Homo sapiens: one gene and its partners. The protein of the gene in region 3 purifies or fractionates together with the protein of the main gene of each other region. This does not show direct contact. Each region holds a gene or a part of one and is shown on either strand. Other genes may lie near its edges. The genes, in order: PRKRA, MRTO4 and GTPBP4.

Region 1 (3,824 bases), on a different chromosome or scaffold from region 3:
ATCAGTGCACATATATGCACTGTATTTACCTTACGGATCTCCAACTGTGAGCTTTAGGTTGTTTCTAGTTTCTTGCTTTTACTAGCAATAAACACTCTTTTGCACTTGAATGAGTTTCTCTGTAGAATTATTTCTAGAAGTGGAACTGCTAAGTCAAAGAACATGTACACTTTTAATTTTGATAAATACTTCCAAACTGATTTCTGAACCAATTTATACTCCTACCAACTGTCTTGGAGGGGGCTTGTTTTCTCATACCCTCACTAATACCAGCTATTATCAAATTTTGTAGTTTTTGCCAATCTAAAAGGTGAAAATATTTTATCTTGCATGAATAAAGTTGAATATTTTTTCTTTTTTTCCCTTAATCGTTTGCATTTCTTCTACTGGGTTGTCTTTTTAACTGATGCATAAGAGCTTTTTAAATTTTCTCTTTTTTAAGAGTTAGGATCTTGCTGTGTGGCTTAACTCTCAAACTCTTGGGCTCTAGCAGTCCTCCCACCTTAGCCTCCCGAGTAGCTGGGACTACAGGCATGTGCTGCTGTGTGCAGCAGATGTGTACAAAAGAGCTTTAAAGGTAGTACTGAAAACAGTTCCTTTATAGTTCTATGTTGAAAATAATTTCTTCCCACTTTTTTATTGTCTTAATTTACAGATTTTTTGCTGTGCAGTAGGTTTTATGTTGTCAAATGTATTAATCTTTTAACCTAGGTTTTAAGTTAAAATGCTTTCCCCATGCTAAGATTTTTAAAAAGAAAAACTCTTCCATGTTTCCTAATATTTATACTGTTTCAAATTTTTATGTTCAAATCTTTGATCCATCTGAAATTCACTTTGGTGTAAGGAATAAGGAAGCATTCTAAATAGATGTCATACACATCAACAAATATATATATATAGCCCCCACCCAAATGTGGATGTAAACTGTTTCTACATCATTATTGAATAATCCATCCTCTCACCCACTGATCTGAAATCTCACTGTTGCTATATACTATGGTCCTATGTGGATTAGCATCTACGCCTGGATTCTCTATTCGCTCCTCTGACTATTCCTGGCCCAGTAACTTGTCTGACAAGTTCAGTTTTACAGTATGTTTTGTTCTCTAGTAAAGCAGCACACCCTTGCTCTCCCAACTCTTCCTTTTCAGTTTTCTTGGCTATTCTTGAGGGTTTTTTTCCAGATAAACTTCAATAAACGTGTATCAAGGTCCAAAATGAACGCTGGTAGGTTTTTTTTTTTTTCGAGTTGGGGTCTCACTCTGTCGCCTAGGCTGGAGTGCAGTGGCGTGGATCTCTGCTCACTGCAAGCTCCGCCTCCCGGGTTCATGCCATTCTCCTGACTCAGCCTCCGGAGTAGCGGGGACTACAGGCGCACGCCACCAGGCCCGGCTAATTTTTTTTTTTGTATTTTTAGTAGAGACGGGGTTTCACCGCGTTAGCCAGAATGGTTTCTATCTCCTGACCTCATGATCCGCCCACCTCGGCCTCCCAAAGTGCTGGGATTACAGGCGTGAGCCACTGTGCCTGGCCAAACGCTGGTAGGTTTTGAGTGAGACCACATTACATTTAAATATATTTACAATGTTTTCTGCTCTATTCTTTAGTAGACTTTTCCTCACGTGGTCCTACGCATTTCTTTCTAAGTTTATTTTCATATAGCCTATCCCTGTCTACAATTTAAATTGGGATCTTCTATATTCTAGTTATTATTTGTAAATAAGAAAACTACTGACTTTTTTCTAGTATATTTTCTCAGAATAGGATTTTCTATTTTTCTATAAAATGACCAATGTTATGAAGCTTCGTAAGTTTTGTCAAAGTGATACACACATACAGCAAAAAATCAAATAGTACAGAAGTATAAAAGCAACAACCTCTGCCTTGCCCCTTCTCCACCTTCAGGTCCCCTTCCCAGATACAATAATTTTTAGCTTTTTATTTTTAATTATTCTGGTTGTTACCTACATAACTCTGGGCAATATGGAAAAGTTATTGATTTTGTATATTAATTTCATAATCAGTTACCTTGATGAATTCTCTTGTTTCTAGTAGTTTTTCTTTAGGGTTTTAAAGGGATACAATCATACCATTTGCAGTTAGTAACCATTTTATCTCCTCTTATTTCCAACTTCGTACTGTTTTCTCTTGTCTAATTTGTTTTTAATTGGTGGGTACTTCTAGAACAAGGTTAAATAAAAGTGGTGTTGGTGGGCGTCCTTATTTCTGATATTAATGGGAATGAGTATAATGTATAAATATATAACCATGATTTTGGTTTTTTTCCAAGTTTTTATCAGTAATGATTGCTGAGTTTTATCAAAATTTTTTTGGCATCCATTGAGAGGATTATATATTACTCTTTGACACATTAATGTGGTTAATTAAAGTAACCAACTTATTAACCTTGAAATAGTCTTAGTTAAATAAACCCTACTTGTCAATGCTATATCATTATTTTAATATTGTACTGAACATTTTACAAAGGTGTTTCACCATAAGGCATATTGATCTGTAATTTTTTTTTTTCTGTTGAACTTGCTATTGTCAGGTTTTGGTGTATTATGTTGGTTTTGGAGAATAAATTTAAAAGTTTCCTTTATGTTATCTATACATTGCCTGAAAAGAGTTTAAATAGCATTGAAAATGATCTCTTCTTTGAAGATTTAACCAATTTCACCTGTAAATCTGTCTGTGCTTTGTAATTTTGGTGATACTGTTGACTCAAATTCCAAAAGCAGTAAATGCAGTGTTTTATATTTTTCTATTAAAAATGTAAAATCAAATTATATTACTCATTTGTATATAGTCTTTGATTTTTTTCTAAAGAATGAGCCCTTATTTTATCATAAGCTCAGTGAAGAAGTTGCTACAGTTGTACTTTTTTATTTCCCACCTAATACACTACTCTCAGATAATGTACCACATGACACACCTATCTGTGAATATCAGAATCTGAAGTTATATATCATGTGTAGGCCAATCTCTTAAGCTCTGAATTTATTTGTTCAGCTACTCGATATATTCACTTAGCTATTCCATAAGCTATTCCATAAGCACTTCAAATTCAATATATTTAGTTCATTATCTGCTCCCCTCTTGCTATTGCCAAGTTTAAAATAGTAATTTCCTCCCTTTCCCTTGCTTCCCACATCCAATCAATTACCATGCCCCTTTACCTCAGTTTTCTAAATAACTTTAAAATCTACCCATCTCTCTCCATTTTCCCAGCCACTACCTTAGTTCAAGCTGTCATGTCTCACGTGTCTTCTGTAACAGCACTCTCGCAGGTCTCTTTGATCCTAATTTCACTCACTTACCATAATGCAGCCAAGTGATTTCCTTGTAATGTATAGACTAGATCCTGTCCTTCCCAGATTAAAATTCTTTAATGACTTTGTACTACCCTTGGGATAAAGTTCACTTTCCTTATATAGGGGTCCCTTTAAGATTTAATCCCTCTTTACTTTGCTGGCCTCATTGAGACTCCCTCCCTCCAACACTATGTTCTACACACAACAAATCACTTAGGGCTCCTAGACTGCATACGATGTTTCACTCCTGGCCTTTGCACACGCTTTTTCTTCTCTCTGGAATTCTTTTCCCCCATTCTACAGGTCTTGGCTTAGACATTACTTCTTCCTGGAATCTGTCTCCAAACCTGTTTTTGTTGGATGCCTTCTTCTATGTTCCCACATCACACTCTGTAAGGACTAGCCTATAGAATTCCTTCCTTTCAGTAGTCTATAAACTCCTTAGAGGCAGGGACTGCTTATTCACTGCACCCCAGTACCCAACACAACACTTAGCACACAGTATGAGCT
Region 2 (3,600 bases), on a different chromosome or scaffold from region 3:
GGGAGGAATCCAGTCAGCCACCTGCCCTCCCCACGGCTCCAACACACACTGGGCAGTGGCTGTCTCCCTGAGGTCCCTTTGATTTGCCGCAGCCTCGACCTCCTGGGCTCTAGTGATCCTCTTGCCTCAGCCTCCCATGTAGCTAGGACCACAGGCACACACCACCATGGCTGTCTAATTTTTTGACTTTTTTTTTTTTTAAACAAGCGCAAGGCCCCTGATGGGCCTCAAGGGCTGCATTTTGGCTGTAAGTTACTGTCTGCTTTCACCCCCACTGTGAGGCATGCACTCTTAGCCCCATTTTCTCATGAGAAAATGGAAGCTTGTAGAAATAACTTGCTCAGCTAGAAAGGGATGAGCTTGCAGGCCCGTGCTCTTGGACTCTAGGCTGTGACCTTTTGGCTCCAGGGCTGCCCATACCTCTCTTGAGGGCGGTGGGCAGGCCCAGCTGCCTGAGCTGTGGCTCCATGGAGTGGGGGAACTGCTCCAGGGGCCCTGGATCCAGGCTCACAGTGAAAGCTGCTTTGTTACCAGCTCGGGCGTAGTCCATTTCTGTGTATTTCGTGAACCACCTAAGGGAAAAGAGAAGTGGTAGGAGGAGATGCTCCTGGCCACGCCACCAGCCCATGAGTCAGGCTCCCCCAAGTGTCCCGTGGCCCTGGGCCTTCCCCCATCACAGACCTTGGCTGCTGGCCAGCAGCCAGCCCAGAGCACCATGCTGGAGAGGACAGAGAGGGCTGTGGTCCCAGGCCACTAGCTCAGTGACAGGCTTCCAGGAGCAGTTCCAACTTGATGCCACATATGGAACGAAGTTCCTGCATCATTCCCTCCCTGAAATCCCCTCTCACCCGCCTCTTTCCCTCCGTTCCTCAGCAGTACTTACTCATTCACCTCCTCCTTTGTGCGGTTGGTGAACAGGAGACCCACCTCACCCCTCAACCTTTTGCTGACCTACAAATCAGGAGTGAGGACAGCTTGGTCACATTAGAGCAGTGGTTCTCTACTAGGCACGTTTTTGCTCACCGGGTACATTTGGCAACATTTAAAGACGTTTTTGGTTGTCATAGCAGGAAGGAGTGGGAGGCAGGAAGCTGCTATTCCTTGGGTCCGGAGGTGAAGGGAGAACCCAGAGCTTTAAGCCAGGCCCTGCTCTCCCTGAGCCTCCGGCCTGCCAATGGCTGGGGGAGGCTGTCACATGGGAGTAGTGGGAGAGAGGGCGGCTTTGCCTTAGCTCCACCCCGTGAGGGCCAGAGACTTACCTGGTGCAGGTTGTCTTTGTATTCATCAGATGGGCTCCGACCCAAGGCCACCATCATCACCTTGTTTTTGCCAAAGAACATCCTACCAAGCAAGAGAAAGAGCATTCTGTGAAGGAAGAGCCCTGCCCTCCCCATCCCTCAGCAACATGCAAAGTAGCTCCGGTCCCCAGTGAGCTCAGGCCCAGGCTGAGCCAGTGGCACCCACTTCTCCATGCTGCCTGGCCACACTGTCCCCACGTTGGGGTCCCTTTCATTATGTTCCCACCCACAGACTCCTGACATGGCAACATTTTGTCTCCCAGCCCATCACGAGCATCATGTACCAGTTCTCTATCTGGATGTATGCGGGAGGCATGTTAACAGCCTGAACCAGAGCTGGTGCGGCAAGAGACCACCACCAGAGCCACCTGCCCCAGGACAGAAACTTGCCATGTGGCTCCTGCATCCTGCTCCCAGGTCACTGTCTGTGTCGCAGTGTCCCTACTGACATTCTAAAACTGGTGTGATGCTCCTAAATGGCCCACAGTCCAGGGTTAAAGGGCCACTTCTCCGGAAAGGCCCACCTCTCAAACATCTCCTGAGCAACTGCCAAGTCCTGCCCCTAGGAGCTCAGTGCAAAATCTGCTTTTTGAGGTGGAGTTTCACTCTGTCACCCAGGCTGGAGTGCGATGGTGCAATCTCAGCTCATTGCAGCCTCTGCCTCATGGGTTCAAGTGATTCTTCTGCTTCAGCCTCCTGAGTAGCTGGGATTATAGGTGCCTGCCACCATGCCCGGCTAATTTTTGTATTTTCAGTAGAGAAGGGGTTTCGCCATGTTGGCCAGGCTGGTCTCAAACTCCTGACTTCAGGTGATCCCCCTGCCTCAGCCTCCCAAAGTGCCAGGATTACAGGCGTGAACCACCGCACCCTGCCCAAGACCAGCTTTAACAGTGAAAAGGAAGTGCTCTTCAGTGGCAGGTAGCACTTTGTCCTTATTAAGGTGTCAGCGGCATGACCCAGGCACCTAAAGGGTCAGAAATTGCTCCTGTGCTTTGACTGAGAGCAGCCTGGCCGGGTCCCCACTCAGAAGGGCCTTCCTCCCCCTGCCCGCTCACCGGCTGTGCTTCCAGGCGTTCCGGATGTCCTTCAGCTTGCTGTTCCTCATGTTGGCCACAGAGAAGATGAAAAGGTACTTGTAGGTGTCCACACATTTCCGAAGCTGTGGGACAATTCACGAGGCTCTGAGTTCAAGCAGCAGCATACAACGGGCACTACTCTGGCCTCAGATGAGAATGAATCTGCTCTGGGCCCCTGACAACTATGGAAACTGGAAGAACTGGAGGCCTCTAATTTGGTTGTCTCCTACCTCCATTACTGAAATTAGGATCCCTAACCACAGGGGAGGCTGAGCCATGGATCTACACCCCACGGCCTTTTCCAGGTCTCTCACTTATTTATGACCAACAGTGGAACTGATCATCAGCTGTTAACCTAGAAACATTCACCCACATTAGGAAGGGTCCTGCTACATGGAAACACATGGAGCCTCTCTGTTATAAGGGGAGGCAGCTGATCGGTACTGCTCTGCACGTGGTGCTGGCCAAAGCCACCATGAGGCAGCCTCTAGGAGTGGAGTCATTGTGCAGGAGGAGACTGTTTCACCCAGCCTGCAGCCCAGGTTGGCAGGTCAGAAGCTGTACAGACAGTGGGTTGGTGCAGTCACCTACACCTGGTAAATCTCCCAGCTCTTTTTTTTTTTTTTTAAAGACAGGGTCTCACTCTGTTGCCCAGGCTGCGTACCACCACGTCCAGCTAGTTTTTTTTTCTTTTCTTTTTGTAGAGATGAGGTTTTGTCATGTTGCCCAGGCTGCTCTTGAGCTCCCAGACTCAAGCTGTCTGACCCACTTGGCCTCCCAAAGTGCTGGGATTACAGGCGTGGCCCACCATTCCTGGCCTCCTGTTTTTTGACATTAGGCAGGCTAACAAATCTCTGTAAGCTTCAGTGACCCCAAATGCAAAACAGCAACATCATCACCTAGTACCCACATCACAGGGATGTTATGAGGATGGAGTGGAACAACGCATAAGAAACACAGTGCAGGACAGGGCACAGAGTACGAGCTAGTCAAAGCTGGAAATCATCACTATGGAAGTTTTTGCTGGTGCTGCTGCTGGAGGAAAAAGGCCTGGATTGGCAGCTTGGAGATTTTTTTTTTTTCCCCACTAGTATGTTCCCCTGGCCAACAGTCCTATCCCTGGCCAACAGTCCTATACCTACCTTTATAAACCAAACAATTGCAAGCTCTAGAAAAGAACAACCTCTTACCTCTTCTATCAGGTTTTGTTTCAATTCCAAGCCTTT
Region 3 (3,824 bases):
GTTCGATGCCCCAGGCCCCCACGATGGGCACACACAGCCTGCCTCCCCCCATGAGAACACTGGGCGAGAGCTTCGGCAGCATACCCTCTTCTTCCTGGACTCCTCAGTTTCCATCCTCTTCCTGCGAGCCACCACTCCTTCAGGGATGAAAGGGGGCCTCTCCTGAGAAGATCCCATATAAAATATTTATGTGAAATGCCTGCTGAATGAGAAACTTACAAAGCCGAAAAAGTAGAAACAAATTCCCTACGTGCAAGGGGAACAGAAAACCATACCCAGACCAATGAACAACCAACAGATTATTTTAGGGGAGAGGAGTGGGTTCATACCGAGACCAATTAACAACCAACAGATTATTTTAGGGGAGAGGAGTGGGTTCAGGGTCACTTTGAGCACAGAGACCAGGAGGACTCCACAAAGTGATTCCAAAGTTTATCCAGGAAAAACAGAAATCATGATTATCATGAAAAATTATGGAAGAAGAAAGTGGTAAGAAATAACACTGGATCAACAGATGAAAGAAATTTAGACATAAACTCAAGTGCATATAAGAATTCAATGGAAACATAAAATTTCCAATACTCAGGTCAGAAATGCCGACCACTTGAAACGGAGTGCAACCTCCACCCTCACAACATAACCAACTCAAGACACGGTGAAGACTATCCAAAAAAGCTAATTTTTAATGCTAGTATAAAAGATAATTTTTTTTTTTTGACAGAGTCTCACTCTTGTCACCCAGGCTGGAGTACAGTGGAGTGATCTCGGCTCACTGCAACCTCCACCTCCCAGGTTCAAACGATTCTCCCGCCTCAGCCTCCTGAATAGGTAGAATTATAGGTGCGCGCCCGACTAATTTTCGTAGTTTTAGCAGAGATGGGGTTTCACCATGATTGCCAGGCTGGTCTCAGACTCTTGACCTCAGGTGATCCACCCGCCTCGGCCTCCCAGAGTGCTGGGATTACAGACGTGAGCCACTGCACCCAGCAAGAAAAGATACTTTTAAAATGACTTTGGAATGAATGGTAAGCCTTTCTATGTACAATGCAAACCTGAACACCCAGAAAAAAAAATTAATATATGTTAATAGTTCAAAAATGTACAGCACATTTGAAGTTAAAAAGGCAAGTGACAAAAAGAGAAAAAAATTTGCAATGTATCTGACAAGAATCCAACCTTTGTAATACAAAAGTAACAAATCAGCGAGAAAAAGATAAACAGCCTAAAGAACTTTGAAAAGGCCAATAAGCAGACAAACATGCTCAACCGCACCCAGCATTACATAAACACACAACAATAAAATCATCTTTACACAAGACTGACAGTCAGTGCCCGACCACGCCGAGGACACAAGGAAAGACAGAGGGAAGGACACAGCCTCCAGCGTCAGTGCAGCACACACCAGGAAGGCGTCTGTGGGACAGGAACGTTGTCAACACCACATGGTGAAGTGCAGACACATTTGCAGTAAAACATGAAGACACAGCGTAACGATGTGTGCCCATTCACAATGGACAAAACAATGAAAATTTATTTTATTTATTTTTTATAGAGACAGGGTCCCACTATGTTGCCCAGGCTGGTCAAGAACTCCTGGGCTTAAGCAATCTTCCCACCTTGGCCTCCCAAAGTGCTGGGATTACAGGCGTGAGCTACTTCCCCCAGCCAAAAAAATGAAAATTTAAAGAATGAAACAGATTTCCATCTGTGTTTAAAGAACTTTTTAGAAACTAATCTTCTATATCAGAAACATTTCTGGAAGGATAAACTAACAGTGACCACGTCATGCAGTGGGAAACGGGTGCCATGTGGCGTTCTGCACTTTCTTCACCTTCTCGATCCTTTATGTAAGCAAGAAGGTGAAACTGAGGCCCACCCACAATATCCACCTGCGAGTGTGTGAAGCTGGATGGGAGGCTTCTGGAAAAGGCACGCAGACAGCACCTGCTGACAGTACTGTGAGCCCACGGCTGTCCCAGGGGCCGTCTTACCTTATCGTCCCTCCTGGTTGGGATAGCCAGGTGCAGTCTATTCAGCACCTCATTCACTTTATTTCCCTTCATTTTGGTTTCCACTCGATGAGCCAAAAGCCTATCGCAAGCCTAATAACGTAAAAAAGAAGGCACAGTCACAAACGCATCCTCCAGCAGCCTCCAGCTACAGGTTCCAGGAGGAGCCACAGATCAGAGCCACTGAGCCTTTTCCCTCAAGGTAACTAACACGTAGGGGGCCACATTCTCTGAGGCCCAGGTGGAAGCGGCCCTGAGGGAAGGTGCATCTCCAGTGCCTGGGCCTCTCTCCCACCACAGTGACCCTCTGCACAGACGGTGCCCTCCAACTGCCCTTCACGAACCGGAGGCAATGTTGCCCCTCAGGACTCTAACCGAGCAACAAATTCCTGAGTGCGACCATGGCATCAGGAGTGCCATCTTTTTAAATCCTGAGTGCGACCATGGCATCAGGAGTGCCATCTTTTTTTTTGAGATGGTATCTCGCTCTTGCTGCCCAGGCTGTAGTGCAGTGGCATGATCTCAGCTCACAGCAACCTCCGCCTCCCAGGTTCAAACGATTCTCCTGCCTCAGCCTCCCGAGTAGCTGGGATTACAAGCATGCGCTACCACGCCCGGCTAATTTTGTATTTTTAGGAGAGACGGAGTTTCACCACGTTGGCCAGGCTGGTCTCGAACTCCCGACCTTGGGTGATCTACCCGCCTCAGCCTCCCAAAGTGCTGGGATTACAGGCGTGAGCCACTGCGCCTGGCCAGAAATGTCCTTTTATTTGAGATAAAAACAACATGAAATACAAAGTAATTAGGACAGCATGTGAAATCCAGCAGCGGACTGCCTCCTGCAAAAGCTGTTCTGCTTTTCAGACTTTTCTCCCTTCTACTTCGAACAGGTTCCATAAAAATAATTTTCACTGTACTTGCTACCGAAATATTAAAAGGCCAGAGACAACAGCTGCTTTAGGGTAAAGTTGTTTGGGGTGAGAAGAGCAAAGCATCCCCTCACAACCCACTGTCCACGGGGGGCAAAGTGGGTCTTAGAAGGGTCTGTCTTCACGCCCCACTCTCGCACGCCACCCGCCTCGCTACTGCGAGGGCTCCAAGTGTTAACAATGTCTAGAAAGAAAACTATTTTCTCCCCACAACTGACTTGAATCAAACAAGAGACAGTAAAAAGACTAATACCTGACTTAAGGCAGCACTGACCTCTGTTTTAACTTTAATAACACCTTCCTCAGTCAGGGTGCTGGTCTCTATTACAGGGAATCCTTCAGACTGCAAATCTGTAAATATTTTCTGGGAATGCAAAGAAAAAACGAGAGATGTATTATTCATTTCCAGTTCCCTATGGAACAAACTGTACAGTTCTGCAAATGGAGGCTGCAAATGTGAACATCTGTGGTTGTTTCAAAGTCTTAAAAAACAGACATATCCTAAAAACAGTTATTTTCTTCATATTCTTCTATGATCAAGAAAACACAAATGACATCAAAAAGATGGCCGACTAGTAGCCCCTCACATCTGTCCCCCACAACAAAGGCAATCAGAATAACGAACAACTACATGTTAATAACTGAGGGGGAGCTCCAGAGGGCATCACAGGAGTAACAGGCACCCTGGGGAGCAGAAAAACGCAAGACGATGAAATACAGCCCAAAGAAAACACCAGGGGCCAGGCGCGGTGGCTCATGCCTGTAATCCCAGCCTTTGGGAGGCCGAGGCGGGTGGATCATGAGGTCAGGAGGTCAAGGTCACCCTGGCTAACATGGTGAAACCCTGTCTCTGCTAAAAATATAAAAAATTAGCCAGGCGTGGTGG

The links.
Region 1: the proteins of GTPBP4 (region 3) and PRKRA purify together in Homo sapiens (affinity purification with mass spectrometry; 2 studies listed by BioGRID and IntAct, with this or other methods). This does not show direct contact.
Region 2: the proteins of GTPBP4 (region 3) and MRTO4 purify together in Homo sapiens (affinity purification with mass spectrometry; 4 studies listed by BioGRID and IntAct, with this or other methods). This does not show direct contact.

Annotation. Positions count from the first base shown.
Region 1 is NC_000002.12:178,437,450-178,441,273, forward strand, and holds part of PRKRA (interferon-inducible double-stranded RNA-dependent protein kinase activator A), read right to left. Parts: intron 2,795-3,824; exon of another isoform or gene 1,418-2,794; intron 1-1,417. UniProt on the Homo sapiens protein: Activates EIF2AK2/PKR in the absence of double-stranded RNA (dsRNA), leading to phosphorylation of EIF2S1/EFI2-alpha and inhibition of translation and induction of apoptosis.
Region 2 is NC_000001.11:19,254,805-19,258,404, reverse strand, and holds part of MRTO4 (mRNA turnover protein 4 homolog), read right to left. Parts: coding exon 3,565-3,600; intron 2,458-3,564; coding exon 2,354-2,457; intron 1,342-2,353; coding exon 1,260-1,341; intron 952-1,259; coding exon 884-951; intron 573-883; coding exon 421-572; intron 1-420. UniProt on the Homo sapiens protein: Component of the ribosome assembly machinery. Nuclear paralog of the ribosomal protein P0, it binds pre-60S subunits at an early stage of assembly in the nucleolus, and is replaced by P0 in cytoplasmic pre-60S subunits and mature 80S ribosomes.
Region 3 is NC_000010.11:1,005,296-1,009,119, reverse strand, and holds part of GTPBP4 (GTP-binding protein 4), read right to left. Parts: intron 3,303-3,824; coding exon 3,213-3,302; intron 2,103-3,212; coding exon 1,992-2,102; intron 163-1,991; coding exon 85-162; intron 1-84. UniProt on the Homo sapiens protein: Involved in the biogenesis of the 60S ribosomal subunit. Acts as a TP53 repressor, preventing TP53 stabilization and cell cycle arrest.